Homo sapiens: one gene and its partners. The protein of the gene in region 1 purifies or fractionates together with the protein of each later gene. This does not show direct contact. Each region holds a gene or a part of one and is shown in the gene's direction. Other genes may lie near its edges.

Region 1 (7,866 bases):
CATTTCCTCTCCCTGGGCCTCAGTTCCCCCATCTGTAAAACAGGGGTCTTGATAAAGGGGTCACAGGGATTCAGAAAAAGATACCACATCTGGGAGATCAAAACAGTGGCTTCTGGCTGGGCGCGGTGGCTCACGCCTGTAATCCTAACACTTTGGGAGGCCAAGGCAGGTGGATCACTTGAGGTCAGGAGTTCAAGACCAGCCTGGCCAACACTGTGAAACCCCAACTCTACTAAAAATACAAAAATTAGCCGGCTGTGCTGGTGGGTGCCTGTAATCCCAGCTACTCAGGAGGCTGAGGCAGGAGAATCGCTTGAACCCAGGAGGCGGAGGTTGCAGTGAGCCAAGATCATGCCATTGCACTCCAGCCTGGACAACAAGAGCGAGACTCCGTCTCAAAAAAAAAAAAAAACAAAAAACAGAAAACAAAACAAAACAAAAAGCACAGTGGCTTCTTCCAGTGCCAAATCTGCTGCTACCCAACTGTGTCATCTGAGAAAGACCCCACATAACCATCCCTCCCCAGCTTTCAGTTCCCAAGGGTAATAGGACAGACTGATAATGGCCCAGCACTCACTCAGTGCCGGGCACAGATTTCAAGAATGAACACCTCAAAACACTCCCACAGAAGAGGGAGGAGCAATTATTACCCCCACTTTATAGTTGAGGCAGCTGAGGCACAGAGAGGCTAAGTGACTTGCCTGAGGGTGCACAGTATTATGGGACAGAGGCAGAACTCAAACCCGGGCCACCTGGCTCCAGCGGCTACATCTGAATCACGTGCCGTGTTAACCGGTCTTGCAAGCCTCAGCCTGATTTTATGATTCGCACACCTGCTCCATGGGTATGACCTCATCCAACCCCTGTGAGGTCCCTCCCATTTCCACCCCACCGCAACGGAAGACCCCTTCGCAGATGAGCACCTGACACCCAGAGAGCTGATGCTTCTCACAAGGGGCACCAGGACCCCGAGAACCATTCTCTTGATTCCACTTCTGCAGCCTGGGTGACCTTCACCAGTGACCCCCGCACTCCCGTCTGCTCATGTGTTAAATGAATGAATCGTCATAATTTACTATATGCTCTGAGCTCCTAACACAAACTAAGTCGTTACTCCTCGAAAAACTCTACGAGGGGATCCTCTGATTTTAAGGATAAGAAACTGAGACACAGAGAAGAAAAAACTCTTACCAGGGTCTCCCAAAATAGTAAGTAGTGGAACAGAGATCTGCACCCATGCTGTCTGGATCCAGACCCAGCGCCCTGAAACAGCAGCTTGTCTGGTTCCAGAAGGAACGGAGGCCGTGGTGAGACTAAGTTAGAAGAGGGCCAGCACCTCATGGGGAGGCCCTTCGGGCACCACGAGTCCAGTCCCGCTCCGGAGGTGGGCAGTCTGCAGGCCCCCTGAGAAGGGGGTTTGAGGGGAGGCTTTTTCCTGCTGGGGAATCTCAAAGGGCTTAAAACTGCAGACCGAGAAGCCGGGACCTTGCCCAGGGGTGATGGGGAGCTGCAAGGGAAGGCTGTGAGCAGGGGAGGGGCGGGGTGATCTCCAAGTGCAGAGAGACCCTCTAGGGCCACGTGGTGACCGACAGGAGGCTGTCCTCCCGGACAGGAGGAGCGAGGGTCCAGAGAGAGAGGAGGACGTCTGAGCTGGAGCCAGGCCAAGGGGACAGAGAGGAGGGGACGGGGCAGAGAGAGGCAGGGGCCGAAGGGACAAGGCTGGGGACCGATGGGCTGTAGGGGATAAGGGGAGAGATGGGGCAAGGTCAGTGCCAAGGGCGTCTGGCCGAATAACTGGGTGGTCGGTGACGCTGCCCCTGAGATGAAGAACGTGGAAGAACAGGGAAGGAGGGTTTGGGGAAATAGAGCAATGAGTTGGGACTCGGTAAGTGAGAGGGGCCTAGGGACAGTGGTGCAGGGGGCGCCCAGGAGCAGGTGGCTGCCCAAGCCGGAGTTCAGGGTCAGATGGAGGAGACCTGCGTGGTTGGTGGATGAACCACGGGAGTTGATGAAAAACTCCCAGGGAACGTTCTCAGGAGGAGGAGCCGGGCAAAAGTGAGACTCAGGCCGCGGTGGGCGGGACCCAGGCCGCGGTGGAGGTGAAGGACGTCCGCGGACACGTCCAGGAGGACATCGATCGCGCGAGCCTGAGCCAGACACAGTGGGCGGGGACGGGGCGCCGACGTCACCGCGTGGGGGCGGGGCTGCGGGAGCCGCTGGCTGCGCGCCCTCCAGGGAGCCGAGCGCAGACCGGGTGCGCGCCTGGGTTCGGCGCGGCGGGAGCGCCCTCAGTGTCCCCGTCTGTATCAGGGGTGCTTCATCAGTACCTGCCTAGGCTGGTTAGGAGGAGGAGCACGTGCGATCGTGACGGGAAGCGCTCAGCACAGACCTGGCACCGAGGAAGTCCCAGGGGCTCGGCTCCTTTCCCTCGTCACCACCGCGCCCCAACAGAGGGAGGCGGCTGCAGGGGTGGCGGCGAAAGGGCCCACCGGGCGTTCCGGAGTCGGAACACTGATTCCTCTCCCGCGTGGCCTCTCGCTTCTGCAGGAACCTTGCTTGTGCTGCCTCCTGTCTGGGCCTCAGTTTCCTCCGTATTCAGCAGGAAGCCATAAGGTTATTAATATAAACACCTCACAGGGCTGCCGGGAGCCGGAGTGAGATCCTACAAAGAGAGCACTTGGCACGGAGGAGTGGCCTGCAGCCGCATTCCATAAACAGGGCTGCTCAGCTGAAGCGGTGGCCCAGGGTGAGGCCCGCAGACTTTGAGCATCAATTTGTGGGGAGGGAGGCAAAGGGACATAGGAGTTCTAGAATAGCTTCCAACCTGGGGATCTATTATGTCTGCCGGTCTGGGCTTGTAGAATGTCTGGAGACCCGACGTTCTAGAATGCATGAGGTTTCTGGGGACTCCAGAGTGCCCGATGTTCGAAGGTTCTAGAGTGTTTGGAGCTCTGTGGTTCTAGGCTATTCTAAAATCTTACCTTCCAGAGTGTCCTCCACTGCCAGAATGTCTTAGGGCCTGTGCTTTTAGAATCTGAAAGTCTGATATTCTAGAAATTCCAGGGGCCTGTAGTTCTAGAATGGCTGAATCCTTCCCATAAAGATGATGACTTTCCACACATGGGGAGAGACCACGCTTACAACAGGTCCCATCCTTCACTGGGTGACCTGAGTGAGGTCAGTCCCTCCTGTCTTGGGACCTCCTCATTAATTAAGCCAAAATAGACTCTAGATAATTGCTTGGGGCCCTCTGGGGTTCTGAGACATTGGAAGCCAGCCTCAAATACCCAAAGCCTTGGGTCATCTCAGTGATCATCTCCAGCCTCTGGGATGCAGAATCCAGATTTCAAGCTCTAGAACCCAGAAATAAGACTACAGGACCAGAATAGAGACCCTGGGTTCCCAGACTCTAAATTCAGACTCTAGAGTCAAGATTCTAGCAATCTCAGAATCGTGAAAGCCAGGTCCCTGTCTCTCAATTCAGCCTTTTAAAAATTTATTTACTTATTTATTTATTTATTTAGATTTTTCATAGAGATGAGGTATTGCTGTGTTGCCCAGGCTGGTCTCAAACCCTTCAGTTCCAGCAATCCTCCTACCTCAGCCTCCCAAAGGCATGAGTCACTGGGCCCAGCCACAGTCCAGGTTTTCAATGCAAAAACAGATTTGAAACTCCAGACTGTATGTTCCAAAGTCTACTCCTGAAAGCTCAGAGGCTAGATCCACCCTGTAGAATCCAGACCCCAAGCCTGGCATGGTGTCTCACGCCTGTAATCCCAGCACTTTAGGAGGCTGAGTCAGGTGGATCACTTGAGATGAGGAGTTCGACACCAGCCTGGCCAACATGGTGAAACCCTGTCTCTACTAAAAATATAAAAATTAGCTGGGCGTGGTGGTGGTCGCCTGTAATCCCAGCTACTCAGGAGGCTGAGGCAGGAGAATCTATTGAGCCCAGGAAGTGGAGGTTGCAGTGATCTGAGATCACGCTATTGCACTCCAGCCTGGGTGACAAGAGCGAAACTTCATCTCAGAAAAAAAAAAAAAAAGAATCCAGACCCCACAATTCAAAATCCCAAATCTACCATTTGTAGTCTAGGCCCCAGGCTTCTCATAGCAGGTGCAAAGGTTTCCAGCCTCGATTGCCAGATTCCAAACACCAGATTCCAGGCTCCTATTGTGGGTTCTAGATTCGAATGCCCCGGGATCCAGAATCAAGGTTCACGATCTGTCACTCAAAGGCCCGACTCCAGGATCCAGATTCCAGACCCCCAGCCCAAGAACTCAGACTTTGAAATCCATATTCCAGACTGCAGGTCATTAATCTCCAACTCAAGATCCTCAAATCCAGAATCCAAGACCCAGATCCAGAACCAGATCCGGATCCAGAACCCGGGATCCAGAACTCTGCCCCAAGCCCAAGAACAGGGACTTTAGGATCCAGTTTCCACACTCCAGACCCCAAATTCCAGACTCTGTCTTTTGATCTCCTCCTAATTTCTGTTTTTGTCCTCCTGTCCCCTCCCCCTTGAGGAACTGCTCCTGGTGGAGAATTCCTCTTTGTGGACTCAGACAACAGCTTCAACCTAATAAATGCTCATTAGGCCAAGTCTCCCACCCCACCAGCAACCAAGGCGTCTCTGCCTGTAAACCTGACTCTCAGCCACCTCCCACCCCACCCTACACCACCACACCCCCAGACCCAGCTGGGACTGGGAGCTTATAAATTCAGGCATCCTGGTACCTGCTCCCTTCTGGCACCCAAGCTGCCCTAGATGCTGCTGGAGGATCTGGAGGAGGTGAGAGCTTTGAGACAAGACTGAGGGAGGGGCAAAGGGGAGATTCACTGTGCCCTGGTTTCAAGGGGAAACGTTGACCACGCTTGGAGAACTGAGTGTCAAGGGCATGGGTAGATCCACGTGTCCTTTACCAATGCCCCAAATTGAACCTGAACCAAGAAAATGTCCTGGAATGGCCAGAAGGAGCTGCAGTGGTGGGGAGGGAGGGGGATGGAGTGGATCAGGAGGACGTCCCTGAAGTACTTGTATCAGAGCCAAGAACGTGGTCAGGAGTGATCACGGGTTCAAGTCAGTTCAGCACAACCTCCCGGAGGCCTCCTGTGTACCAGGCCCCAGGTGGGGCAGTGCTGAGGTCACAGAAAGAACCTGACCTGAGCCCCATCTTCAAGACCCCCAGATGGAGAAAAGAACAGGCCAGACCTCAGCAAGTATGGGGCATCTGCGCTGTAATGGAGACAGAATGGGTGCTGTGGGATTCAGGGGAGACACCTGTTAGGTGTTGGGGCCTCCCAGAAGAGGTGGGGGCAGAGTGTCAGAGGACAAAGATGAATTTGGAAGATATGGGGAAGAAGGATTTCAATTCACCCTCAAAGCTTCCTGAGGCCTCCCGTGGGTCGGGCCCTGCAGTACTGGAGACCCAGAGTGGAGTCAGACCAGCTCCTCGGGGAGCTGCCAGTCTCGTAGGGGAGGCAGACACCACTGAGGGTCAGGGGAGGTCAGAGAAGGCCTCAAGGAGGAAGCGGGGCTGGAAGGGAATGGCGTTGGATATGCGGTGGGAGGAATAGCCTAAGCATGAAATGGCAGGAGGGAAAATGGCAGCACTGGCTGCGTCTAGGACAAGGTCATGGGAGACCCAGGGAGAGGGGCTGGAAGGGAAGAAGCCACTTTTGTCCTTGAAAGTGAGGCTGGAGCCAGGCAACTCATGCCTGTAATCCCAGCACTTTGGGAGGCTGAGGCGGGTGGATCACTAGAGGTCAGGAGTTCAAGACCAGCCTGGCCAACATGGTGAAACTCCGTCTCTACTAAAATTACAAAAATTAGCTGGGCGTGGTGGCACACACCTGTAATCCCAATTGCTTGGGAGGCTGAGGCAGGAGAATCTCTTGAACCCAGAAGGCAGAGGTTACAGTGAGCGGAGATCACGCCACTCCACTCCAACCTGGGCTACAGAGCCAGACTCCGTCTCAAAAAAAAAAAAAAAAAAGAAAAAAAAAGAAAGAAAGTGAATTTGAAGAGCTGGACTTTATCCTGGTGGTGCCAAGGATCCATGGAGGGTGGTGAGCAGGGGAGGGGCACAGCCAGCTCCAGATGTAGAAAGACCCTTTGGGGTCATGGCTGGAGGGCAAGCTGGTGGAGGGGACTGGACTGGAGGGGGACCCAAAAGGCCAGATAAGAGGGTTGAGATAGACCAGGCGCGGTGGCTCATGCCTGTAATCCCAGCACTTTGGGAGGCCGAGGTGGGTGGATCATGAAGTCAAGAGATTGAGGCCATCCTGGCTAACACGGTGAAACCCTGTCTCTACTTAAAAAAAAAAAATTTCCAAAAAATTAGCCGGGCACGGTGGTGGGCGCCTGTAGTCCCAGCTACTCGGGAGGCTGAGGCGGGAGAATGGTGTGAACCTGGGAGGTGGAGCTTGCAGTGAGCCGACATTGTGCCACTGCACTCCAGCCTGGGTGACAGAGTGAGACTCCGTCTCAAAAAAAAAAAAAAGTTGGGACAGGGGTCCTTGGTGATGATGGAGAGAGATCCAGGGGCTGGTAGCATGGTGCTGGAGGCTGACAGGTGGAGGAGGTGGGGCAGGGTCTGTCCGAGTGCCTAGAGGAAGAGTAAACCTTCCAGAGATGGGGGACCCAGAAGGAAGCGCAGAGTGGGGTTGGGGGAAGGGGATACCGGTGGTCAGAAGAAATTTATTAACAGTGGATGGGATAAGTCTGTGTCTGGAGGGATCCTGGTGGAGGCAGAAGGGTCCTGCCTCACCTGGATTCTCTCACTCCCTCCCCAGACTGCAGCCGAACCCTGGTCCCTCCTCCACAATGTGGCTTCTCCTCACTCTCTCCTTCCTGCTGGCATCCACAGGTGAGGTGGCCCCAGGAGGGGGCCAGGTCTGTGGGAGCAGGTGCCCCCTTCCCAAGCATGTCTGGGCCCAGTGATCTGCCAGCCCCTACCTCACCCAGAGACCACTAAAGATCCTTCCTTCACCCTCCACCTGTGCCAATGTCCCTAAGCCCTTACCGTCAGGTGCTGGTGCTGCTGCTCTGGAGTCGCTATGTTGCCTGGGGCCTCTCGCTGCCCACGACAAGGAACACGGTCCTGGGGTTACACAAACCTGAGCTGAGTCCTGGGGCAACCGCTTCCTTGCTGTGTGTCCTTGAGGGAACTGCTTCACCTCTCTGGGCTTCGAATGCCTTCTCTATAAGACAGCACCCACTTGAGACAATAACAGTGAGGTCTCAATAGCATAACAGAGGTAATATACATAGCAAGCATTAGACAAGTGCTGAGAGGCCAACAGCACAGACAGACTCCAGCTTGAGTCCCACACCTGCCACTCCCTGTCTCTTACAGGGTCTTTGAGGGGATTAAATGTGGTTGTGTGTGAGGCAGAAGCATAAGCCTGGCCCAGGTAGTGCCCCTTCAGGTGTGCAAGCCAGGCACGGTGCTTAGAGCTTACATACAACGTCTATGTGTGGTGGGCACCACCGACCTCATTTGACAAGGGAAGGGGCTGTGGCTCAGAGGGACGGCCACAACATCAAGGTCACCTTGGGTGTCAGGCAAACTCCAGATTGAACTCAGCTGCCACACACCAAGAAATTAATTGTAACCTGATGCCTCTCTTCTGGAGAAATTGGGGGGTGGACTTTCATTAACGTTCTGCCACAAATGACCCTCACTCCTGGGGGCCCCTGAGACCCCCACGCCTCCAGCCTCCCCTCCGGCTCTCTCTGTGCACTCACCTACCTGCCTCGCGCCTGCCTGCTGCGCCCAGCTGGGGCCTCCACCTTCCTCTGGCTTGGACTGGCCAGGTGCAGCCTCGGTGCCCAGCTGTTCAGCCCGTACCCTCCGCCC
Region 2 (7,199 bases), on another chromosome or scaffold:
CCTTGTTTACCCAATTTTATGTTAGTGAATTTCTTGCCCATTACAAATGTACAAGTAAAGATGGAGTAAATAATTTCCATGCCCAGTGAGAAAGGGTGCGCAGAATTTATATTTAGTTATGGAGGTGATTTTTATCTTAGGAAAAAGGTGGCATGATTCAGATCCTTCTGAGTTGAGCCCTTAGGGTGTCTTATTTTGTATTTTGAATTCTGTACATGCTAGAAAGAGTGGTGATAGAATCAAAATATTTCTAATTCTATAACCTTAGTCCAGTCGCTTGATTATTTCTGCCTTCACATCCTCATCTGAAAAAAATTGAGCTTTATATCTATGTATACTGTGTTGCTACTAGTTTATCACAAGGATAAAGTGAGACAAATTTATCAGATAACCTAGGGAAATAAGTTACGTTATAAATGTAGAATATTCTGTTGGTTATATTGTGTGTCATGTTGTCTGTCCTTCTCTCCTTTCCCTTTTCCCTCTCCCTCCCTCTCTCCCCTCTACTTCTCTTTTTGTACCTGACTTGCCCATTTAGCTACAAGCTCATGAAGGAAACATATTTTCTTACTTGTCTTTGTATCTTTCTTGTTTACTGGGTGTCTGATATACTAGCACATACTTGGATGAATATAATAATATTTGAATGACGATATTTGTAAGTAAATATTTGAATAACTGTGAAGTAAATATTCTTCACAGTGTGAAGAACTGTGTGCGGGGCAAGAAATAAGCCCTTGGCAAGCAAAGTGAGAGGAGAAAAGCCTTTCTATGAAGGAGACTGAAAAGGAGTGATTGGAGAGATGACAGAGAACTAGAACAGCTCAGTAATCAACCATAAGATCAGATGTTTTAAGTGCAGCAAAGAGGTCCAATAAGATGATGTCTGAAAAATATCCGTTGTATTTGGCTATTAGGTAACCAATTGTCTGATAGTAGTTTCAGTAGAGTGGTAATGGATGGTTGGGTGAGAGGAGGGAGAGGGGTTGTGTGGAAGCCAGATGATAATGGATTAAGGAGTAAATAGAAATTGAGAAAGCAGATATGAAAAGTGTGGACTCCTTTGAAGGCATTTGGTTGAGAAGAAGGAGAGACATTAAAAGGTTGCTATAAAGTCAAGAGGAGAGTGTTTTAGCTCTGTTTTGTTTTTTGTTCTTGTTTTTTTCTGTGGGAGACGTGGTGTGTAGGCCATAGGAAAGAAGCATGAAAAGTTGACAGTAGATGAAAGAATGGAGAGGTGGGAGACAGACAGGAACCAGAAAAGAATGTAGCAATAGGCACACATAGGCAGAAGAGTTAGCTCTGACTAGGAAGAAGAGCCCCTCATACTTTAAGAACAGAGAAGAGAGGAGGTAGGAATGGGTGATACAGTAAAGGTGTACACTACGGTGAGATTCGTTGTATATGCAAAGACATGTGAATTGGCATACAGCTTAAGAAAATAAATTGCAAGAAATACCTAAAGTCTGACAAATACCTTGGCTTACATTTAAGTCAAATTTGTAACCAATATTTAATAATTTTTGGGTTTCTGAGAGTAGTAGCTTTCTTTGCTTGCTTAATGTGTCTGAAAATCGTGTCTGAAAATCCTATCCAGTTAAATAATCTTTTTTTAAAATGCTGCTGTATGCACATCCTAGATTGCTGTAATACTTGAGAATTCAAAAGGTATGATTTATAATGAATGATACTAGTTATCCTGTGAAAGATTAACGTATAATATATATATATATATATATTTTTTTTTTTGGAGACAGTCTTGCTCTCTCACCCAGGCTGGAGTGCAGTGGCGTGATCTCGGCTCACTGCAACCTCCGCCTCCTGGGTTCAAGCGATTCTTGTGCCTCAGCCTCCCTTGTAGCTGAGACTACAGGTGCTCACCACCACTCCCGGCTGATTTTTTTTTTGTATTTTTAGTAGAGACGGGGTTTCATCATGTTGGCCAGGCTGGTCTCAAACTCCTGAGCTCAAGTGATCCGCCCGCCTTGGCCTCCTAAAGTGCTGGGATTATAGGCGTGAGCCCCTGTGCCAGGCCCGAAAGATTACCATATAATTTTCATGCAGTTTTTGTTCAGATTTCAGCAGTATGTGGTACTAGGTACACATCTTACAGTTTATAAACTTTACTTTTAGAGCACTTGTGACTTACTACTAAATTTTGTTTGTTTTTCTTTTAGTTATTACAAGAACTGTGTACAGTATTTAATGTAGATTTACCATGCCGTGTGAAGTCTTCCCAATTGGGAATTATCAGCAATAAACAGACGCATACCAGCGCCATAGTGAAGCCACAGTCTAGCTCCTGTTCCTATATCTGCCAGCACTGCCTCGTCCACCTTGGAGACATTGGTGAGCCTTTGCTGTGAAGGAATTGATAATATGTTCCTCCTTTTCTTTGGAATAGTCATAGAAAGAAACTGTTTTCCTTTAAGCGGAGCATACACACACAATTTAGATTGTCATAAGAAGAAACTATAAAATGTATTCTAAGGAACTTAAAATTTCTCAATATTTTTGGGATTGGCAGAGCATCGTGAAGAAAGTAACTTTCATATTAAGATTTAAATTTTATTCCAACTTTATGTAATTTATATAGGCAAATAATAAACAGCAAAAACATAATCAAAGCTTAATTTTTCAAAGTGGTGCCATAATTTCTAAATTAAATGTACTCTTCTGGAATAAATGAGGTTTATAAATTACTCCTGAAGCGAAATTGCCTTCTTTCTTTCTTACCAATGGACTAAAAGTTGATTTTTAATTTTGCTTCCTTTTTAAAGTTTAATTTGTATTTCTATTATTTGCATTTTATCTGGGAATATTATATAACTTATTTATTCTTGTTCATTCCTTTAAGGTGACCTAGAAAGGTTGTAAAACAAATTAACTATAGGATTATGTTTTGCTTGTCCTCAAATAACAAAGAATGGAGAACATTACTGCTTTTAAGTTTGAAATTTTAGATTTCTTAATATTGTAAGTCAGCGGTTCCATGAGGAGGTCACATCAGAGTAAGCAGTGAGTTTGGCAGGGAGATTCATTGATACTGTGTTTAGGTTGTTTTGCTTTAAATATAATCTTTGCACACACATATTTAATATTGCAATAGGAATGAGACATTTTTCAAAATCACTTTATAAAATATTGAAAAATACATAATTTTCAGATCATATTGTATAGTGTATTTTGTTTTGTTTTGTTTTTAAGTGCCATATAACTCACCCCTTCTTGTGGGCCGGCTCCAGGTCACCAGCATAGTCCATAGTGGGAGCTGGTGATGCATGACACTGGAGGACCTGAAAATGGGGTCTAGGTAAGCTTTAAAATTGGTTACATGCTGAATGTCCCAAATAAGGAAGGCTGATGGACACTTCACACATAATCCTATAGTTAATTTGTTTTAAAGTATTTTGTCTTTAATTTTAAATTAACTTTAATGTCTTTATTATCTTTAGAACTTAAAACTATAGCTGTTTTGGAAATACTACCCTACTGTTTGTTTTTTGGGTTTTTTAAAACTAATTTTCTTCTTCTTAGCTCGATACAGAAACCAGACCAGCCAGGCAGAGTCCTACTATAGGCATGCAGCTCAGCTTGTCCCCTCCAATGGTGAGTGGACCTGTCAACCTGAGATTGACCGTGACACTTTGTTCTTTATAACAATGTGGCAGATAACTCAGGGCTCACCTTTGAAGTTTTATGAAAGCAATAAATGAGTTTTGTTATTGTCATGTTTTTCCATTTAACTGTACATTCCATGTAAACTAAAATGAATTTTTTTTACAAGTAAGATGACTTTTATTATTTATTTTATTTTATTATTTATTATTGTCAGTAAAGCAATATAGATAGAATCTCTTAATGTAATCTGATATTGTTTCTACAACTCTGGCTTCCTTAATTGCTTATAGAATAATTATTTCTTTAGATACCACCATTCCCCTCCCCCCAGAAAAACAATCTATTACCTAAAAGATAATCTTTTAATGGCCCCAAACTAGGCATTAGCAGTAGTTCTTGAGTTACAGAAATTACAGCAGATATTTAATTATTTAAATCATTCTTACTAAGACGTTGAAATTCCTTTAGATTCTAGAAAGAGTCTAAAGCAGGGATGATAGTCTGACCACACTACTTGTTTCATATTTGTTTATGGCTGCTTTCACACTACAGTGGCAGAGTTGAGTGGTTGTGATAGAGACCCTTTGGCCTACAAAACTGAAATTATTTATAATCTAGCCCTTGCTGAAGCCGCTCTCTACCCTAATATTGACTGTTTAACCTGTATATGATAGTGTGTACTGTCGCTGAAGTGTGCTGTTGGACCTTACGCTGGTTTGCAATGAGGCAGTCATATTTACCTTATAAAAATACTCCCCATTGTTTGAGTATTTAAACACTGATCATTTGTATTCTTATAGCAAGACTTTGTCACTCTTGGGGTTACTCCAGAATCTTAACTTTCTCCTGTAGGTCAGCCTTATAATCAGTTGGCTATCTTAGCTTCTTCCAAAGGAGACCATCTGACCACAATTTTCTACTACTGCAGAAGCATTGCTGTGAAGTTCCCTTTCCCAGCTGCCTCCACTAATCTGCAAAAAGCACTTTCTAAAGCACTGGAAAGGTAGGGTTGTTTGGTTTTTTTTTTCTCTTTCCAAGAGGACTTTGTAACCTGGAGCCTTAATTCCTCATAATTTGGTTTACAGAAAATAACGGCCTATGCTTCTCTTATTTCTAAACATATAGATTTTTCATAATTTGTGTATAGTCACTGAATTTCATCCAATCAATATCTGATTCAGTCCCAGTAAAAGAGTACACAGGCTGTTAATACTGACTCATCTTGAGTGTGTTGCAGTTGAAAAATCAGTCAAATACAGCTCTTTTGTGTATCAAGTATTTAGCAAGCCAGTGCCTCCTTAAACAGTTGTAGCCAATTTGCTGCTTATGATTCATGGAATTTTTTTCTTTCATTTCAGCCGAGATGAGGTGAAAACCAAGTGGGGTGTTTCTGACTTCATCAAGGCCTTTATTAAATTCCACGGTCATGTGTACCTGAGTAAGAGCTTGGAAAAGTTGAGCCCTCTTCGAGAGAAATTGGAAGAACAGTTTAAGGTTAGATTTCAGAAATAGAGAATTTTTGTCTTGTCTAAATCAGGAAGCATAACATTTGGAGGAAACTGACTCCCAGTTTTTGTAGTTACTTAACTGTGTGAACTATTGGTAAAAATTATATTCGAAGTATGTGAAATCTTTGCATTTATCATCCCTTCAATTTAAACTGAGGTACAGTCTGTATAAACAAATATAATATAGCAGTGTTTTCACTTGAGTAGTTGCCATTTGACAAAAATTATCAAAGTGGAAAAAAATAAATAACTCCTCAGTTTTGAAACTACTACTACTTTTGATGGTTTGTGTATTCTTAGATATGATTATGTTACCTGCTTTATAGATATTGGCATTCTCCAAACCAAGTTCATTATTTTTATTGTGCTTGCATTCATCAGGATTGTGGTAGTTTGAATGAAAGGAATGAGAGTTTCATTTAACAGGGATATATTTTACTAATTTGAAGAGATAACATTAACCTTCATTCTATTTATATATGTGAAAATGATCTTTTATTAGTATGTTAAGATATTAGCAGTTTAAATGTATAATGCATAAAATAAGGAGAAAGTCAAAAGTATTAACTTTTTTTCAGTTCATGTATTCAAATAAATATTTGACTACTCATCGGTCATTGTTTTAGGCACTGTGTTAAACAGTAAATGACAATTTCAAAGAACATTTTATATTTCTTGGTTATTTCTAGGTATCTATATACTTGGGTAATTGTGTATAACTGCTTCATAGTATTTCTGTAAGTTCTTTATAAGTCAGGCATTTTAAGAGATTGTAGAACTTGGACAGTTAAGGTGTCACTTAGCCAAAAATAGTCAATGCGAAATAGTTTTTACAGGTAATCGCTTTTTGGTTGATACTTTCTATGTGCAAGATATTAGAATAGATAATTATAAATAGCAATAGTTTGTTTTGTTTTAAAATATACTTAGCCTGTGACATATGATGTATAAGGTTGGGTGTGTGAAAGGAACAGCTAACTTTGTCATGTCCTAGGCTGTTCAGCCTGGAAAAGAACAAACAAGTCTAAATAGTTTTCATAGTAAGTATTCAGACATGTGAAGGATTATTTGAAAAGAACATACCTGTATCTTTCCTGAAGTCAAAACTAAAATCTTAAATTTTAAGTTGAAATCTATAGGGGGCTGACCGTGGGATGTTGTGGATTCTCCATTTTGGAGAGCTTAACAGTCAGATTGACAGCCATCTTTCTTGGATTATTTAAGTGCAGTCCTACTAAATAGGGGATTGGACTAGAAAACTTCTTGAGATTGCTTCCAGCTCTGGTTCTGTGAAATACTCTCTAAATTGGTGGTGGTGGGTGGTCCCTACCTTAATGAGATCTTCACTAACTAAGTTATTCTAGTCTAAAAACCTAGTAAGTTTTGCATTTGGTTCAACCTCAAACACTAACACTCTCTTCACATATATATTTCTGTATGTGAAGTTCTGGTAAGTGTGGGTGGGCAGTTTCTAAAATATACTTTGAAGTATCATTCCAGCACTCTAAAGTTAAACATAAAACATAGTATGAGGCAGATCTATTTGAAAGCTTACCCAGTGTTGAACTAGAACATTGCTGGAGTGAAATTTTAACATAGTGGAGTAAAATTTCCAAAGTATTTCTAAAGCATATGTAGATAATTAGTATCATCAACATGTATACTTCAGTGTTTCTAACAACCTTTAGCTACTAAGCAGAAATGTTTACCAAGTTGAGGTCCACTAAGGGATTTAAGGCCTGGGATCTGGGAATTGAGATGTAATACATTTTCTGTAAGTTAAATGTGGGCTGTTTGTTAATGGTATTTATTTCAGTATATTTCTCAACTGTAGTTGAAAGTTTGAGTAGCAAAAATCTTATCAGTTCTAATCTGACTTTATTCCTTGGAAGACTCTCTACAATATAATCTAAATTTTAGGAAATTACAACTGAATAACTTCAACCTTATTTCTGAATGGATAGGTTGTTCATTCACTAAGTGTTTATTAAGTACCCGCTATGTACCATGCACTTTTCTAGGCTTTTAGAGATATAGGGGAAAACATGACAAAGTCTGGACCTTCATGAA
Region 3 (7,772 bases), on another chromosome or scaffold:
ATTGTCATCACAGGACCAGCACCACGACTTTTTTTTTTTTTTTTTTTTTGAGACAGTCTCGCTCTTTCGCCCAGGCCGTAGTGCAGTGGCGTTATCTGGGCTCACTGCAAGCTCCACCTCCTGGGTTCAGGCCATTCTCCTGCCTCAGCCTCCTGAGTAGCTGAGACCACAGGCACCCGCCACTGCACCCAGCTAATTTTTTTTGTATTTTTAGCAGAGACGGGGTTTCACCGTGTTAGCCAGGATTGTCTCGATCTCCTGACCTCGTGATCCGCCCGCCTCGGCCTCCCAAAGTGCTGGGATTACAGGCGTGAGCCACCGCGCCCGGCCTCGCCACGACTTTTAAAGGCATTGTTCCCAACTTCTAAGCCTTGTTCTCTGGCCCTTCTGGAGTTTCATCAGCTATCACATACCATTGTAATAAATTTCCTTTCTGCATATGGTAAGCCCAAATTGACTTTTGCTGTTTGCTACTAAGAACCCTGTGTACCTGCTGCATCTGGAACCATCCCCAGACACCACACTTTTTGTAATGTAACTGCTTACTCCTCTGTTGCCACACTAGACTCTAAGTATTATTATGATTGGATCCTCAGTGCCCTGTAATCACCCAAGAAGACACTGATTGAATGAATGAATTAAACTTTCTGAGCTCTCATTTCCTCATGTATAAATTGGGAATAACAGTTACTTGGTTTTTTGGGTTTTTTCAGGCAGTTTCCCTCTGTCGCCCAGGCTGGAGTGCAGTGGCATGCTCTTGGCTCACTGGAATCTCCGCCTTCCCGGGTTCAAGCAATTCTCCTGTCTCGGCCTCCTGAGTAGCTGGGATTACAAGCACCCACCACCATGCCCAGCTAATTTTCTTGTATTTTTAGGAGAGATGCGGTTTCACGATGTTGGTCAAGCTGGTCTCGAACTCCTGACCTCAAGTGACTCAACTGCATCGGCCTCCCAAAGTGCTGGGATTACAGGCGTGAGCCACTATGCCCAGCCAAAATAGTAGTTCTAAAGAAAGATGGAGAATGTTTTTCTAACAGGAAATAAACTTGGACAACCTCCATCTCAATCATCTCATTTTACAGACAAGGAACTGAGGCCCCCAAAGAGTAAATGATTTGCCTAAGTTTGGTGGATAAGTTCAGAGCTGTTTTTTACTCCTAGGTCAGTACATTTTCTACACACCATGATGGCCATAAAATATTATAGGCATCAATGTTTGTATCCCCCGCCTCCACCTTCACATGTTGGAGCCCTAGCCCCTCAAGGTGATGGTATTAGGAGGCACGGCTTTTGGGATGTAGTTAGGTTTAGGCGAGATAATGAGGACAGGGTCCCTATGATGGAATTGGTGCCTCTAAAAGAGGAGGAAGAGACATCAGAGCTTCCTGAGAAGCCATCTGCAAGGCAAAAGAGGGCCCTCACCAAAACCCAACCACATCGGTACCCTGATCTCAAACTTCCAGCCTCTAGAACAGTGAGAAATACATGTATGTTTAAGTCACCTAGGCTATGGTATTTTGTTATAATGCCCAAGCTCAGACAAACATTTTATTCGATAATACTTTCACTTTAAACTTAAACTGGGCCAGGCACAGTGGCTCATGCCTGTAATCCCCGTGTGTCCAGAATTAGTGGGTTCTTGGTCTCACTGACTTCAAGAATGAAGCCGCGGACCATCGCAGTGAGTGTTACAGTTCTTAAAAGAGGGGCGTCCAGAGTTGGTTCCTTCTGATCTTCGGATGTGTTTGGAGTTTCTTCCTTCTGGTGGGTTCGTGGTCTCCCTGGCTCAGGAGGGAAGCTGCAAACCTTCGCAGTGAGTGTTATAGCTCATAAAGACAGCGTGGACCCAAAGAATGAGCAGCAGCAAGATTTACTGCAAAGAGCAAAAGGACAAAGCTTCCACAACGTGGAAGGCGACCCCAGTAGGTTGCCTCTGCTGGCTCGGGCAGCCTGCTTTTATTCCCTTATCGGCCCCACCCACATCCTGCTGATTGGCCCATTTTACAGAGAGCTGCCTGGTCTGTTTTACAGAGAGCTGACTGGTCCGTTTTGACAGGGTGGTGATTGGTACATTTACAATCGCTGAGCTAGACACAAAATTTCTCCAAGTCCCCACAGAGCACTGATTGGTGCATTTACAAACCTTGAGCTAGACACAGGGTGCTGATTAGTGTGTTTACAAACCTTGAGCTAGACACAGAGTGCTGACTGGTGTATTTACAATCCCTTAGCTAGACATAAAGATTCTCCAAGTCCCCACCAGATTAGCTAGATACAGAGTGCTGATTGGTGCATTTACAAACCTTGAGCTAGACACTGAGTGCTGATTGGTGTATTTACAATCCCTTAGCTAGACATAAAGGTTCTCCAAGTCCCCACTAGACTCAGGAGCCCAGCTGGCTTCACCTAGTGGATCCCACAGGGGAGCCGCAGCTGCCCACCAGTACTGCCCCGTCAGCCCCACACTCCTCAGCCCTTGGGCGGTGGATGGAACCCGGCTTGGCAGAGCAGGGGGCAGCGCTCGTGGGGGAGGCTTGCCCCGCAGGAGCCCACAGTGGGGCGGGGGGTGCGGCTCAGGCATGGCGGGCTGCAGGTCCTGAGCCCTGCCCCGTGGGGAGGCAGCTGAGGCCCAGCAAGAATTCCAGTGCAGCGCTGGCGGGCTGGCACTGCTGGTGGACCCGGGGCACCCTCCACAGCTGCTGGTCTGGGTGCTAAGCCCCTCACTGGCCAGGGCCGGCGGTGCCAGCCGGCGCTCAGAGTGCAGGGCCCGCCGAGCCCACACCCACCCGGAACTCCCGCTGGCCCGTGATCGCGGGGCACAGCAGCCCCGGTTCCCGCCCACGCCTCTCTCTCCACACCTCCCTGCAAGCAGAGGGAGCTGGCTCCGGCCTCAGCCAGCCCAGAGAGGGGCTCCCACAGTGCAGCAGCGGGCTGAAGGGCTCCTCAAACGCGGCCAGAGTGGATGCCCTGGCCTGAGGAGGTGCTGAGAGCGAGCGAGGGCTGCTAGCACGTTGTCACCTCTCACCAGCACTTTGGGAGGCCGAGGCGAGTGGATCAGGAGTTCCAGACCAGCCTGGTCAACATGGTGAAACCCTGTCTCTACTGAAAATACAAGATTAGCTGGGTGTGGTTGTGCATGCCTGTAATCCCAGGTACTCGGGAGGCTGAGGCAGGAGAATCACGTGAACCCGGGAGGTGGAGGTTGCAGTGACCCGAGATCTCGCCATTGCACTCCAGCCTGGGCAACAAGAGCAAAACTCTGTCTCAAAAAACAAAACAAAACAAAACAGAACAAACTTAAACTGAAATACGCATGCATTTATTGGTAGGTAGTGCAGAAGGCTGGTGCAGGGGTTATGAAGAATGCTATGAAGTTTCAAGTATGGCAACCAGCATATGCATTCACGTTTGCTATGTGTGCTCAGGTGTGAGAGCCAGAGCGTGAAAATTACTTCTGCTCACGGGGAGTCCAGTATATACACTATCTTGTCCTCTCGGGAACTCTATAAAGTAGAAATTGTTACGCTACAGATTATTAAAACAAGAAAAAAACAGGCTCAGTAAAGGTAATTGAATTATTTTGGGTGCTGCAGCCAACCACCAAGTTGCAATGACCAAATCGGAGCCAAATAAATTGCTCACTTCTGGTCCGTCTCATGTCCCCATCTAAATTACATCATTAATTTACAATCCTTTGGCATTTTTCATAATCTAGACAGCACTTTCCCTTCTTTCGTCTGTTTAAGTCTTGCCATTCTTCCTACCTCTCTGAGGAAGGAGTTCATAAGAGTAGGAATAGGCTATTAAATTCTAACCATTTCAGATAACCATAAGTATCCTGATTTATCATATTGCCATAAATAAGCCTAGGAGACCCTACTTCATAAATGGTTTCTTGTCTGTACATTAGGTAATCGGTGTGAATTTCCATAAGTCTCTAAATTCAAAGCATTAATGAACCACAAATAGGCTTTTAACAATTGAATCCCGGTTGCTATTCTTGACCTTTTCATTTATTTTCAGAGACCACTTCTCATTTAAGTGACACTTAGCAACTAAAAAGATTCACAGAGTGATTCAGAGTCGAGTATGATGTCCTCACTGTTGAATGCTCATAGAATATTTTTTCTCTTTCCATAGTCTTGAGGACCAACGCAAACGTCTAGAGGATGTGGGATTCTTACCTGCTAACATATCTTTGGCATTAACTCCCCAAATCTTTGAATGCAAGGCACGCTTACCTGACACCCTAAACTGCTAGTTTAGGGACACCCGCCGCAGAGCGGAATCGTTCAAGGTCACTGGGGCTGCAGGTGCGGGGCCTTAACCAGCGCTGCCGATCCGTCAGCTCTCGGCCCACCCTTGGGGATCCCCATCGCCCACTGCGACCTAGCTGGGAGAACCCAGTCCGCCCGCCCTCCCGGTGGCCGGTCTTGGAACCGCGCTTCTGGAAGGTTCCTGAGTGGCTGGCAGTGGGGGCGGCTCCAGGAAGCCGGGGCGGAGCGGGCGGCGTTGGAGTCTCGGGCTACGCCTCCCTGGGCCGCTCCGCCCCGCCCGTTGTCGGAAGCCGCGCTCCGCCAGGCAGGAGACACTGTGGTCGGGAGTAGGCAGCGGCGCCGCGTCCGCTCTCGCCCGCTCTCGCCCGCTCGCCAGCCGGCTCTCCTCCCGCCGCAGGACCCGCGCGCCGCGCTCGGGGGCCATGCAGCGCCTGGCCATGGACCTGCGGATGTTGTCCCGGGAGCTCTCCCTCTACCTGGAACACCAAGTCCGGGTGGGGTTCTTCGGCTCGGGGGTGGGCTTATCCCTTATCCTGGGCTTCAGCGTCGCTTATGCCTTCTACTACCTGAGCAGCATTGCCAAGGTGAGCCGGGGGTGGCGCAGGGCCGCGGGCTGCTGGGCCAGGAGCTAGGGTAGCAGGCGCGGCGCGAGGCTGCGCGGCCAGGGGCGGTCGGCAGCCCCGGGGATAGGCGGCGAGCTGCTCCCGAGCGGCAGCCCCCAGCGCGCGCGGGAAAGCCAACAGGCCCCGCCCGTTCGCCCGCCCCCTGGGGGTCCCGGCCGGGTGGTCCTCGGAGCGCAGCCTGAACCCGGCTGACTTCTGCGCTGCGGCGCTGCCCGGTCACCGATCGCGAAGCCGGCGGCGCACTCGGGAACGCCGTGGCGCTTTTGAAAATGACTCCGGGCAGGGCACGGTGGCTCACGCCTGTAATCTCAGCACTTTGGGAGCCCGAGGCGGGTGGATCACCTGAGGTCAAGAGTTCGAGACCAGCCTGACCAAAATGGTGAAACCCCGTTACAATTACAAAAAATTAGCCGGGCGTGGTGGCGGACGCCTGCAATCCCAGCTACTCGGGAGGCTGAGGCAGGAGAATCCCCTGAACCCGGGAGGCGGAGTTAAAAACAAACAAACTCCCTTATCGCGATTCTCGCCTTCCCCTCGGGGCATTGGCGAAACCCCCGTTTCAGTCCTCTGTGACTGTGAATTTTTTGCGTCAGCCCTCCAGAAAGAGTTGTAATCGGAGGAAGCGCGCGCGCGAGCGACAAGTCTTTGCCGGTTTCTGGTTTACGGTTGGCAGAAACTTTGCTCTGGGCCCTTCTCTGATACTGCTTTTCCCTTCAGAAACCCCAGTTAGTGACCGGGGGTGAGAGTTTCAGCCGCTTCCTTCAAGACCACTGTCCCGTGGTTACAGAAACGTACTACCCGACGGTCTGGTGCTGGGAGGGTCGAGGACAGACCCTGCTTAGACCTTTCATCACTTCGAAGCCCCCGGTGCAGTACAGGAAGTAAGTGAATTTCCGTTTTCAGTCATTTCTGCAAAATCACAGGTTGTTTGTTTGCTTGCTTGCTTATTCCCAGTTCTTGGTTAATAGAATCTGCTTTAGGAAGTATATAGAACAGAAAGAGGGAATGAAAATGGAAGGTACGTCCCCGGCTCCACCCCCAGCTGCAGGAAAATACCCCAGCTGCAGGTATTTGCCTCCTGGTCCCCGCCCTAACCGCCAACCTGATGTAAATGGTTTATTTTTAGGATGAGAGAAGTGTTTGGGGATTACTGTCTCGCAGTTTGTCATACATCTGTCAGAAAGACCCAGATCTTTTGATGATCTGCATTCATTCATTGATAAGTAGCAGATACTGGGGGGGGGGGTGGGGTGAGAAGGATGCCACTTAATTTGGGTTTTGGGCGATTTATTGGTGTAAAATGACTTCCTATTGACAGGCAAATGGGATCTTGATGATAATAGCTCTTGATGTGTTAAAGATACGGTCCAGGATTTATCAGGAACCAGATTTAAATGGTGCCTGTTATTAATTTCCCTTAGTCATCTATCCTTCTGGAGTTTATTTTGTTGCCTGGAACTTGCACTGTTTGTTTGGGAAAATTCTGTAAGTTCATGAATACTATGTGAGAAATAATTTAAATTATTTCAGAAGAAAATCTTGAAGTATACTATACAAGGAGACTGCATTATTGAGTCCAAAGAGCTAGAGCAGTGGTCAGAGATTAGATCAGCATTTTACTTACTCAGACTTCCCTGTCGCATTAGTTGAGTGACCTCAATCAAACAAGGGTTAAATGCTGGATGTTTTGGAGTAATGAGTAAGTATTCATTTATCTTAATAATTAGCAGTTCATTTTTATATACGACCTTGTACGGAGGTTGCTGGAAATACTTGATGGTACTAATCTTCATAAAATCCTTCTAATGAAAGAAAATGATATGTAGATCGAGATATGGGTGTGTGTTCGTGAATGCTGGAAAAATGTTATTTTTTGATGAGCAAATAATGTCATGTGTTTAGAATTAAAATTAAGACATGACTTAAAACATGTAAATAGTAATGTCTTCTGAATTATTCCTTTCAGTGAACTTATTAAAACTGCAGATGGAGGACAGATTTCACTGGACTGGTTTGATAATGATAACAGTACGTGTTATATGGATGCCAGCACCAGACCTACTATCTTATTGTTGCCTGGCCTCACGGGAACAAGCAAGGAGTCATATATCCTTCATATGATCCATCTTAGTGAAGAATTAGGATACAGGTACCAGTAAAAGATTTCTTTTTTTTCACTTGATCCATTCCAAATGAAGTACAAATATATCTACATGTTTGTTTCAGAAATACTTAGTACTTCTTGCATAGAAAAGCAGTCCCTTAAATTATTATTTTTCTCTGCATTCTTTTTTTCCTCTTTCTTTTCAGGAAGATGCATAACTGAATCATCTCACAAGAAATGTCACTTAGCATAGTAGACACTCTGCAGATTTAGGCTGAGTTAATGAATGAAATTAGAATCATCTGAGCATTGACTGAGCCCTTCCCCCCATCCCCACCCCAATGGAGAGTGTGTTATGGAGGGAGAACAGCAATTACAGACCCCTGAGAGAGTACACAGTGGCCGTCATGCCACATTCTGGGGCCTGGATTCACTAATCTTGTCGCCCTGGCTCAGCTCCCAAGTGCAAAAAATATTCAGAATCAGCTTGTAGGTTGTCCCTATTTATCAAAGGTGATCTCTGCCTCTTCTGACCACCTGAGTTTGCAGGTGCACTTGGCTAGTCTCCAGTTGTTGATGCCACAGCTTTTCTGAGTAACCATTATTAAGCTCAGTCACCAGGTACAATTTAATTTTTTGCAAGTGATTAGCAACTTTGAGTTTCAAGTTCAGCTCTAGAATCTTAGAGTCATTATAAAAGGTACTGCTTTTTTGTGCCTCAGCTTTTTTTTTTAGCTGATAATTATTGTAATGGAACACTCTGTGAGT
Region 4 (7,832 bases), on another chromosome or scaffold:
CACCATTCTCCCACCTCAGCCTCCCGAGTAGCTGAGACTACAGACGCCCACCACCATGCCCGGCTAATTTTGTTTTTGTATTTTTAGTAGAGACGGGGTTTCACCATGTTAGCCAGGATGTTCTCGATCTCCTGACCTTGTGATCCGCCCACCTTGGCCTCCCAAAGTGCTGGGATTACAGGCATGAGCCAACTTCCCACGTGTCTGTTTGCATAGTTGAGTGATACTGTTTCATCCTCCTGCTTGGATGCTAGTTTGGCTGAGTATGAGGATCAATTTTTTTTTTTTTTTTTTGAGACAGAATCTCTCTCTGTCACCCAGGCGGGAGTACAGTGGCAAGATCTTGGCCCACTGCAACCTCTGCCTCCTGGGTTCAAGCAATTCTCATACCTCACCTCCCAAGTAGCTGGGACTACAGGTGCCTGCCATCACACCTGACTAATTTTTATATCTTTTTTTTTTTTTTTCAGAGATGGAGTCTTGATGTTGTTGCCTGGGCTGGAGTGCAATGGCACGATCTTGGCTCACTGCAACCTCCACCTCCCGGGTTGTAGAAATTCTCCTGCCTCAGCCTCCCGAGTAGCTAAGATAACAGGTGCCTACCACCACGCTCAGCTAATTTTTGTATTTTTAACAGAGATGGGGTTTCACCATGATGGCCAGGCTGGTCTTGAACGCCTGACCTCAGGTGATCCACCCGCCTCAGCCTCCCAAAGTGCTGGGATTACAGATGTGAGCCACTGCACCTGGCCAACCCTGTCTCTACTAAAAATACAAAAATCAGCCAGGTGTGGTGGCGGGTGCCTGTAATCCCAGCTACTCATGAGGCTGAGGCAAGAGAATCGCTTGTACCCTGGAGGTGGAGGTTGCAGTGAACCAATATCACACCATTGCATTCCAGCCTGGGCCACAGAGCAAGACTCCGCCTCAAAAAAAAAAAGTATATATATATAATGTGTTCTGATTCTTTTTTTCTTTTTGAGACAGAGTCTCACTCTGTCAGCGATCCCTGCTCACTGCAATTTCTGCCTCCTGGGTTCAAGCAATTCTCCTGCCTCAGTCTCCCTTGTAGCCAAGATTACAGGCACCCACGACCACACCAGATAATTTTTTTTGTATTTTTAGTAGAGATGGGGTTTCACCATGTTGGTCAGGCTGGTCTTGAACTCCCGACCTCAAATGATCTGCCTCTCTCGACCTCACAAATTTCTGGGATTATAGGCATGAGCCATGGTGCCTGGCCCTGATGATGATGATGATGATTATTGAGACAGAGTCTTGCTCTGTGGCCAGGCTGGAGTGCAGTGGTGCCATCTCAGCTCACTGCCACCTCCCACTCCCTGGTTCAAGTGATTCTGTTGCCTCAGCCTCCCTAGTATTGGGATTACAGGCACATGCCACCATGCCCAGCTAATTTTTGTATTTTTAGTAGAGATGGGGTTTCATTATGTTGGCCAGGATGGTCTTGATCTCCCGACCTCACGATCCACTCACCTTGGCCTCCCAAAGTGCTGGGATTACAGGTGTGAGCCACTGCGCCTGGCCCCTCATTCGAATGAGAATGCTTGATTGCCTATTTTTTCCTGTGTGAAGGCATTTATGAATCCCTTTCTAAAAATTTGCTCCAATGCATATAGTTGTTTTTTTGTGGTTTTTTTTTTTTTGAGACGGAGTTTTGCTCTGTCACCCAGGGTGGAGTGCAATGGCGTGGTCTCGGCTCACTGCAACTTCTGCCTCCTGGGTTCAAACGATTCTCCTGCCTCAGCCTCCTGAGCAGTTGGGATTATAGGTACATGCCAGCACGCCTAGCTAATTTTTGTATTTTTAGTAGAGAGAGCATTTCACCATGGTGGCCAGGCTGGTCTCGAACTTTGACCTCATGATCCGCCTGCCTGGGCTTCCCAAAATGTTGGGATTACAGGTGTGAGCCACTGTGCCCGGCCCATAATTCTTTTTTTTTCTTTTCTTTTTTTTTTTTTTTTGAGACGGAGTCTCACTCTGTTGCCCAGGCTGGAGTGCAGTGGCGCGATCTCGGCTCCCTACAAGCTCCACCTCCTGGGTTCTTGCCATTCTCCTGCCTCAGCCTCCTGAATAGCTGGGACTACAGGCTACTGCCACCACGCCCGGCTAAGTTTTTGTATTTTTAGTAGAGATGGGGTTTCACCGTGTTAGCCAGGATAGTCTCGATCTCCTGACCTCATGATCCGCCCACCTCGGCCTCCCAAAGTGCTGGGATTACAGGCGTGAACCACTGCGCCCAGCCCCGGCCCCATAATCTTAAATCTTCTTTGACACCCTTTATATCCTTTTTATATCCTTTTTATTTATTTATTTATTTTAATTTATTTTATTTTTTTTTGAGAAAGAGTCTCACTCTGTTGCCAGGCTGGAGTGCAGTGGCGTGATCTTGGCTAACTGCAAAATCCACCTCCCGGGTTCACGCGATTCTCCTGCCTTAGCCTCCTGAGTAGGTGGGACTGCAAGCACTGTGCCATCACACCTGGCTAATTTTTTGTGTTTTTAGTAGAGAAGGGGTTTCACTGTGTTACCCAGGATGGTCTCGATCTCCTGACCTCATGATCTGTATGCCTCGGTCTCCCAAAGTGCTGGGATTACAGGCGTGAACCACTGTGCCTAGCTGCTTTATATCCTATTAATTGACAACTTAAAATTTTTTTTTCTTTAGACTATATCCAGAATCTGGCCACCTCTTTTTTTTTTTTTTTTTTTTTTTTGAGACGGAGTCTTGCTCAGTCACCCAGGCTGGAGTGCAGTGGCACGATCTCAGCTCACTGCAACCTCCGCCTCCCAGGTTCACGCCATTCTCCTGCCTCAGCCTCCCGAGTAGCTGGAACTACAGATGCCCGCCACGATGCCCGCCATGATGCCCGGCTAATTTTTTTGTTTGTATTTTTAGTAGAGACGGGGTTTCACCATGTTAGCCAGGATGGTCTCGATTTCCTGACCTTGAGATCCACCCGCCTCGGCCTCCCAAAGTGCTGGGATTACAGGCGTGAGCCACCACGCCCGGCCGAATCTGACCACTTCTTACTACCTCCTCTGTTATGCCCTGGCGCAAGTCAACATCTCTGGCCATGGCTTTTAGCCTCCTTAAGGCTCCTTGTTTCTTCTTGCCCCCTGGAGTCTATTTTCACCCAGCAATCAAAGGGGGATCCTGATAACGATGTCAGACTATGTCGCTCCCCACTCAGTACCCTGCAATGACTTCTACGTCCTTCAGAGGAGAGACAGTGGCAAGATCTCGGTTCACTGCAAGCTCCGCCTCCTGGGCTCAAGCGATTCTCCTGCCTTAGACTCTCGAGTAGCTGGGATCACAGGCATAGGCGTCTGCCATTACGGCTGGCAAGTTTTTGTATTTTTAGTAGAGACGGGGTTTGACCATGTTGGCCAGGCTGGTCTTGAACTCCTGACCTCAGGTGATCCACCTGCCTTGGCCTTCCAAAGTGCTGGGATTATAGGCATGAGCCACTGCGTCGGGCCTTTAACTTTTTTTTTTTTTTTTTTTTTTTTTTTTTGTAGAGACAGTGTTTCGCTCTTTTTGCCCAGGCTGGAGTGCAATGGCACGATCTGGGCTCACCGCAATCTCTGCCTCCCAAGTTCAAGTGATTCTCCTGCTTCAGCCTCCCAAGTAGCTGGGATTACAGGCATGCGCCACCATGCCCCGCTAATTTTGTATTTTTAGTAGAGACGGGGTTTCTCCATGTTGGTCAGGCTGGTCTCAAACTCCTGACCTCAGTTGATATGCCTGCCTTGGCCTCCCAAAGTGCTGGGATTACAGGTGTGAGCCACTGGGCCCGGCCTAACTTTTTTTTTTTAGAGACAAGAGTCTCGCTATATAAGTCAGGCTGGTCTCAAACTCCTGGGTTTAAGCAATCCTCTCGCCTTGGCCTCCCAAAGAGCTGGGATTACAGACATGAGCCATAACACCAGGCCCAAACCTGTCTTCTAGTGCCTCCAAAACCTCTGTCGCCTCATCAGCTACTACCCTCCCTCTTCCTGTGGTTTCTCAAACATGTCAGGCACAGACCATCTCAAGGCTTTTGCATTTTCTTTTTCTTCTGGGTGGAAGGTTCCTCACCCTTGACCCTGTTATGTGTGAACAGAACTCCCTCTCTCATCTTCTCAGGTCTTGAATCCTGTCACCTTTTCAGTTAAACCCTCCCTTATTCAACGAACTAAAATTGCAAATCACTTGTCCCACACACCCTCTAACTCTCTTCCTGGATTTTTCTCCGTAGTACTTATTACTACTTGATACACTATGCATTTTTTAGTTATTTATCTTTGTTATGGTCTGTAAATTCCAGGAGGACAGGGACCTGTGTGTTGTACTACCAGGGGTGCCTCCAGCACCTAGAAGGACGCCTGGCATATGGCAGGGCGCAATTGATCTCTCTGGAGTGAGTGGATGAATGGGAGCTCAGAGGAAACATGGAAGTCTGGGAAGGCTTCCTGGAGGAATAGGCCCGCTGGCCCACACTCCCAAACCCCGCCCATGCGGCTTTGCGCTCTGCCACGCCCATCGAAGCGGGGCCGAGGCCGGAAGCAGCCCCGGGCGGAAGCCCTACCGTGCCAACTGGGCCCTCCTCCCGACCTGCCCCGGGCTCGTGCCCCGCCCACCCAAAAGTGGGTGAAAGGTCGGCGGCGCCGGCACTGCAGCTGGGGCTGAGAAGCCAGGACGGCCCGAGAACTGACAGACGGAGTGACAGACGGACTGACCATGGCCGACCAGCCAAAACCCATCAGCCCGCTCAAGAACCTGCTGGCCGGCGGCTTTGGCGGCGTGTGCCTGGTGTTCGTCGGTCACCCTCTGGACACGGTCAAGGTGCGGGAGGCTGGGTCGCAGGCTTTGGGGAGGAGGCCCGGGCGGGGCGCGGAAAGCATGGTCCCCCGCGAGGCGCGGACGCTGGGCAGAAGAGGGGCATGTGTGAGCTTCCGTGAGAAGTCTAGGGAATCTCTCTTTCAGGGGTGGGCAGGAAGCTGTACCTTGCGCCCCAAAGAGCCAGGCGGCGGCGCAAAGTGAGCAGCCTCTAACTGCCTGTCAAGAGCTCTGATGTAAAGTTCCCTGTCCCGCAGTCTCTTCTGACCCTGCGCCACTTCTTTAGGGATGGGAAGGAATAAACGTCTCTCCATAGTTTTGGTTTCAGCCAACACTAATATTATCGTTAAGGTTGAAACAGGTCCCCTGTAAAGCCTGCCCCAGGAAGACAACTAAAGACAGAGCGGTACGGTTGTTCTGGAGGTGTCCTTTGATACATTCCCCTGGGGCAAGAGTACCCATCTCTTTCGCACCTTTCCCGGCCCGGGGAGATACTTGACACTCTTCGGCCTGTCACCCAACGGTGGCCTGCTCAGCCTCCTGGGCAGAGGCATCCCTGTGAGAAGCAATGATGACCTCAGTGACCGAGCCCCTTCCACGGAAAGCAAGGTGATCAGCTTTGCACAAGGCCAGCCTCATTCTCACAACTCCCAGATGAGGAAGCTATGGTCAGACTGAGGCTTGGGAGGGAGGACGTTCATCAGGAATTGTTCTCTGGTCTTCCTCATATCATATCTCAACTATTCCCCTTGCAACACCTTCATTAATGCTTTGCTTGGGGACCAAAGTCCATCCCCCATGGCTTAGCACTCGAAGCTGCATCCAGTTTTCTCACTTTTTTTCTAGACGTAGACGTGAAGGAAATTGACAAGTCATTGCCAGGGTGGGCCTGTGGGGAGCAGACATGAGTTTTAAAAGATTGGAAGCCCATGTGAGGGGGTTTGTTAGGATGTTGGGTCAGATTTCTTCCACAGCGAAATAGTTTTGTGGGCACTTCCTCTTGGCCAGCTTGGGCAGCAAGCTCTTTGCTGCCTTTCATCCAAGAGAGGAGCTGCCCTGAAGTAGAGCTCATACTGGGGTCATTCTATAGGAAGACCAGGGTTAAAGTAGCTGGACTGGCTAGGTCATTGTGCAACATGAAATCAAATGTTTATTTAGCTGGTGGTAAATGCCATGTGTTAGTGCTTCCCAGACTGTGGTCATTCCAAGCGGCACTGTCTACTGAGGGACGATTGTCTGGCCTTTCTTCCTGCTCTTGGTCCATATAGGCAGATATCTTATTAGTTCTAGGCCTCTGGGGCCGCCCTTAAAAAAAAAAAAAAAAAAAATATATATATATATATATATATTCACACACACACAAATATTGCTCCTACCTCCATATCACCTTTGTCCTTGATGTCACTCCCAAGAAGGACTGGATGACCTCTGCACTGAAGTGCAAATAACTGAAATGCTCACTGGCATATTTAGCAACCAGAAAGCCTCTTTTTAGCTTAAACCAAAACCACAAATTGCTGACTGCTGTGTTTTTGGCCTTAGTGAGCTGGGTGGGCTCCAATCAAAGCCTGACCTTAAGGTACTTTCAGAGTTCCAAGGTTAAAAAAAAAAAAAAAAAAGGAGAAGAAGAAAAAAAAGAAGTCCAAGATAGTGTAACTGAGCTGTGGGCTGTGTGTCCTGACAAGGCAAAAGCTGCAGCGCTTCAGAGTGGGTCATGAAAAGGCTCTATGGAAGGTGGTGCGTTAGAACAGGCATTCAAGTGCTGGGTGAGTTCAGACTGAAGGAGTAGGGAGACCCAGACAGTCTGATGGGAAGGCAGGAGTGAAGGTGAGTGTGGCTTGCAAGTGGGGATCATATTATAAAATAAGACAACCTAGGCCGGTCACGGTGGGCTCATGCCTGTTAATCCCAGCACTTTGGGAGGCTGAGGCAGGTGGATCACCTGAGGTCAGGAGTTCGAGACCAGCCTGGCCAACATGGTGAAATCCCATCTCTACTAAAAATACAAAAAAAAAAAATTGGCTGCATGTGGTGGCAGGTGCCTGTAATCCCAGCTAATTGGGAGGCTGAGGCAGGAGAATCGCTTGAACCCACAGGGCGGAGGTTGCAGTGAGCTGAGATTGTGCCATTGCACTCCAGCCTGGGTGACAGAGTGAGACTCCTTCCCAAAAACAAAACAAAACAAAACAAAACAAAACAAAACAAAACAAAAACCACCTGCAAAGGACTTTAATGTTCTTGCTGGTTTGGATGGCTGATATCCTGTTGAGACAGGTATGAGGTATGAAGTGTATATAAAATCACAAAAAGGCAGCCTTGGCAACATGGCAAGACCTCATGTCTATAAAAAATACAAAAATTAGCTGGGCATGGTGGTGCACATCTGTAATCCCAGCTACTCAGGCGGCTGAGGCTGGAGGATCGGTTGAACCTAGGAGTTTGAGGCTGCAGTGAGCCTTTGCACTCCATTCTGGGCAACAGAATGAGACACTGTCTCAAAAGAAAAAAAAAATCACAACAAGGTATTAGTCAGAATTTTTTTTTTTTTTTTTTTTGAGACAAGACTCTCCCTCTGTCACCCAGGCTGGAGTACAGTGGCAGGATCTTGGCTCATGGCAACTTCCATCTCCCGAGTTCAAGCAATTCTTTTGCCTCAGCCTCCTGAGTAGCTGGGATTATAGGTGCCCACCACCATGCCTGGCTAATTTTTGTATTTTTAGTAGAGATGGGGTTTCTCCATGTTGGGCAGGCTGGTCTCAAACTCGTGGCCTCAAGTGATCCTCCGGCCTTGGCCTCCTGAAGTGCTGGGATTATAGGTGTGAGCCACTGTACCTGGTCTAGTCAGAAGCTTTGATCCATTTCTCTCTCTCTACTAACTAGGGGAGGTTATGCCTGACTATGGGAGATCTGAAGGACAATATGAGGGATTTTGGATGTAAAGGTATGGTGGCCTCTGGGCATTTCTATTGTGTCCCATAAACCCCTCAGACTT

What was found.
Region 2: the proteins of KLK15 (region 1) and SMG7 purify together in Homo sapiens (affinity purification with mass spectrometry; 3 studies listed by BioGRID and IntAct, with this or other methods). This does not show direct contact.
Region 3: the proteins of KLK15 (region 1) and ABHD3 purify together in Homo sapiens (affinity purification with mass spectrometry; 2 studies listed by BioGRID and IntAct, with this or other methods). This does not show direct contact.
Region 4: the proteins of KLK15 (region 1) and SLC25A20 purify together in Homo sapiens (affinity purification with mass spectrometry; 2 studies listed by BioGRID and IntAct, with this or other methods). This does not show direct contact.

The regions. Positions count from the first base shown.
Region 1 is NC_000019.10:50,830,457-50,838,322, reverse strand, and holds the start of KLK15 (kallikrein-15 isoform 4 preproprotein), read left to right. Parts: upstream 1-4,748; 5' UTR 4,749-4,796; intron 4,797-6,799; 5' UTR 6,800-6,830; coding exon 6,831-6,873; intron 6,874-7,029; exon of another isoform or gene 7,030-7,224; intron 7,225-7,758; exon of another isoform or gene 7,759-7,793; intron 7,794-7,866. UniProt on the Homo sapiens protein: Protease whose physiological substrate is not yet known.
Region 2 is NC_000001.11:183,524,419-183,531,617, forward strand, and holds part of SMG7 (nonsense-mediated mRNA decay factor SMG7), read left to right. Parts: intron 1-2,177; coding exon 2,178-2,349; intron 2,350-3,294; exon of another isoform or gene 3,295-3,313; intron 3,314-3,537; coding exon 3,538-3,609; intron 3,610-4,473; coding exon 4,474-4,624; intron 4,625-4,979; coding exon 4,980-5,115; intron 5,116-7,199. UniProt on the Homo sapiens protein: Plays a role in nonsense-mediated mRNA decay. Recruits UPF1 to cytoplasmic mRNA decay bodies.
Region 3 is NC_000018.10:21,701,593-21,709,364, reverse strand, and holds the start of ABHD3 (phospholipase ABHD3), read left to right. Parts: upstream 1-4,590; 5' UTR 4,591-4,699; coding exon 4,700-4,861; intron 4,862-5,617; coding exon 5,618-5,781; intron 5,782-6,866; coding exon 6,867-7,049; intron 7,050-7,772. UniProt on the Homo sapiens protein: Phospholipase that may play a role in phospholipids remodeling. May selectively cleave myristate (C14)-containing phosphatidylcholines through its predominant phospholipase 1 activity, cleaving preferentially acyl groups in sn1 position.
Region 4 is NC_000003.12:48,895,704-48,903,535, reverse strand, and holds the start of SLC25A20 (mitochondrial carnitine/acylcarnitine carrier protein), read left to right. Parts: upstream 1-4,653; 5' UTR 4,654-4,741; coding exon 4,742-4,846; intron 4,847-7,832. UniProt on the Homo sapiens protein: Mediates the electroneutral exchange of acylcarnitines (O-acyl-(R)-carnitine or L-acylcarnitine) of different acyl chain lengths (ranging from O-acetyl-(R)-carnitine to long-chain O-acyl-(R)-carnitines) with free carnitine ((R)-carnitine or L-carnitine) across the mitochondrial inner membrane, via a ping-pong mechanism.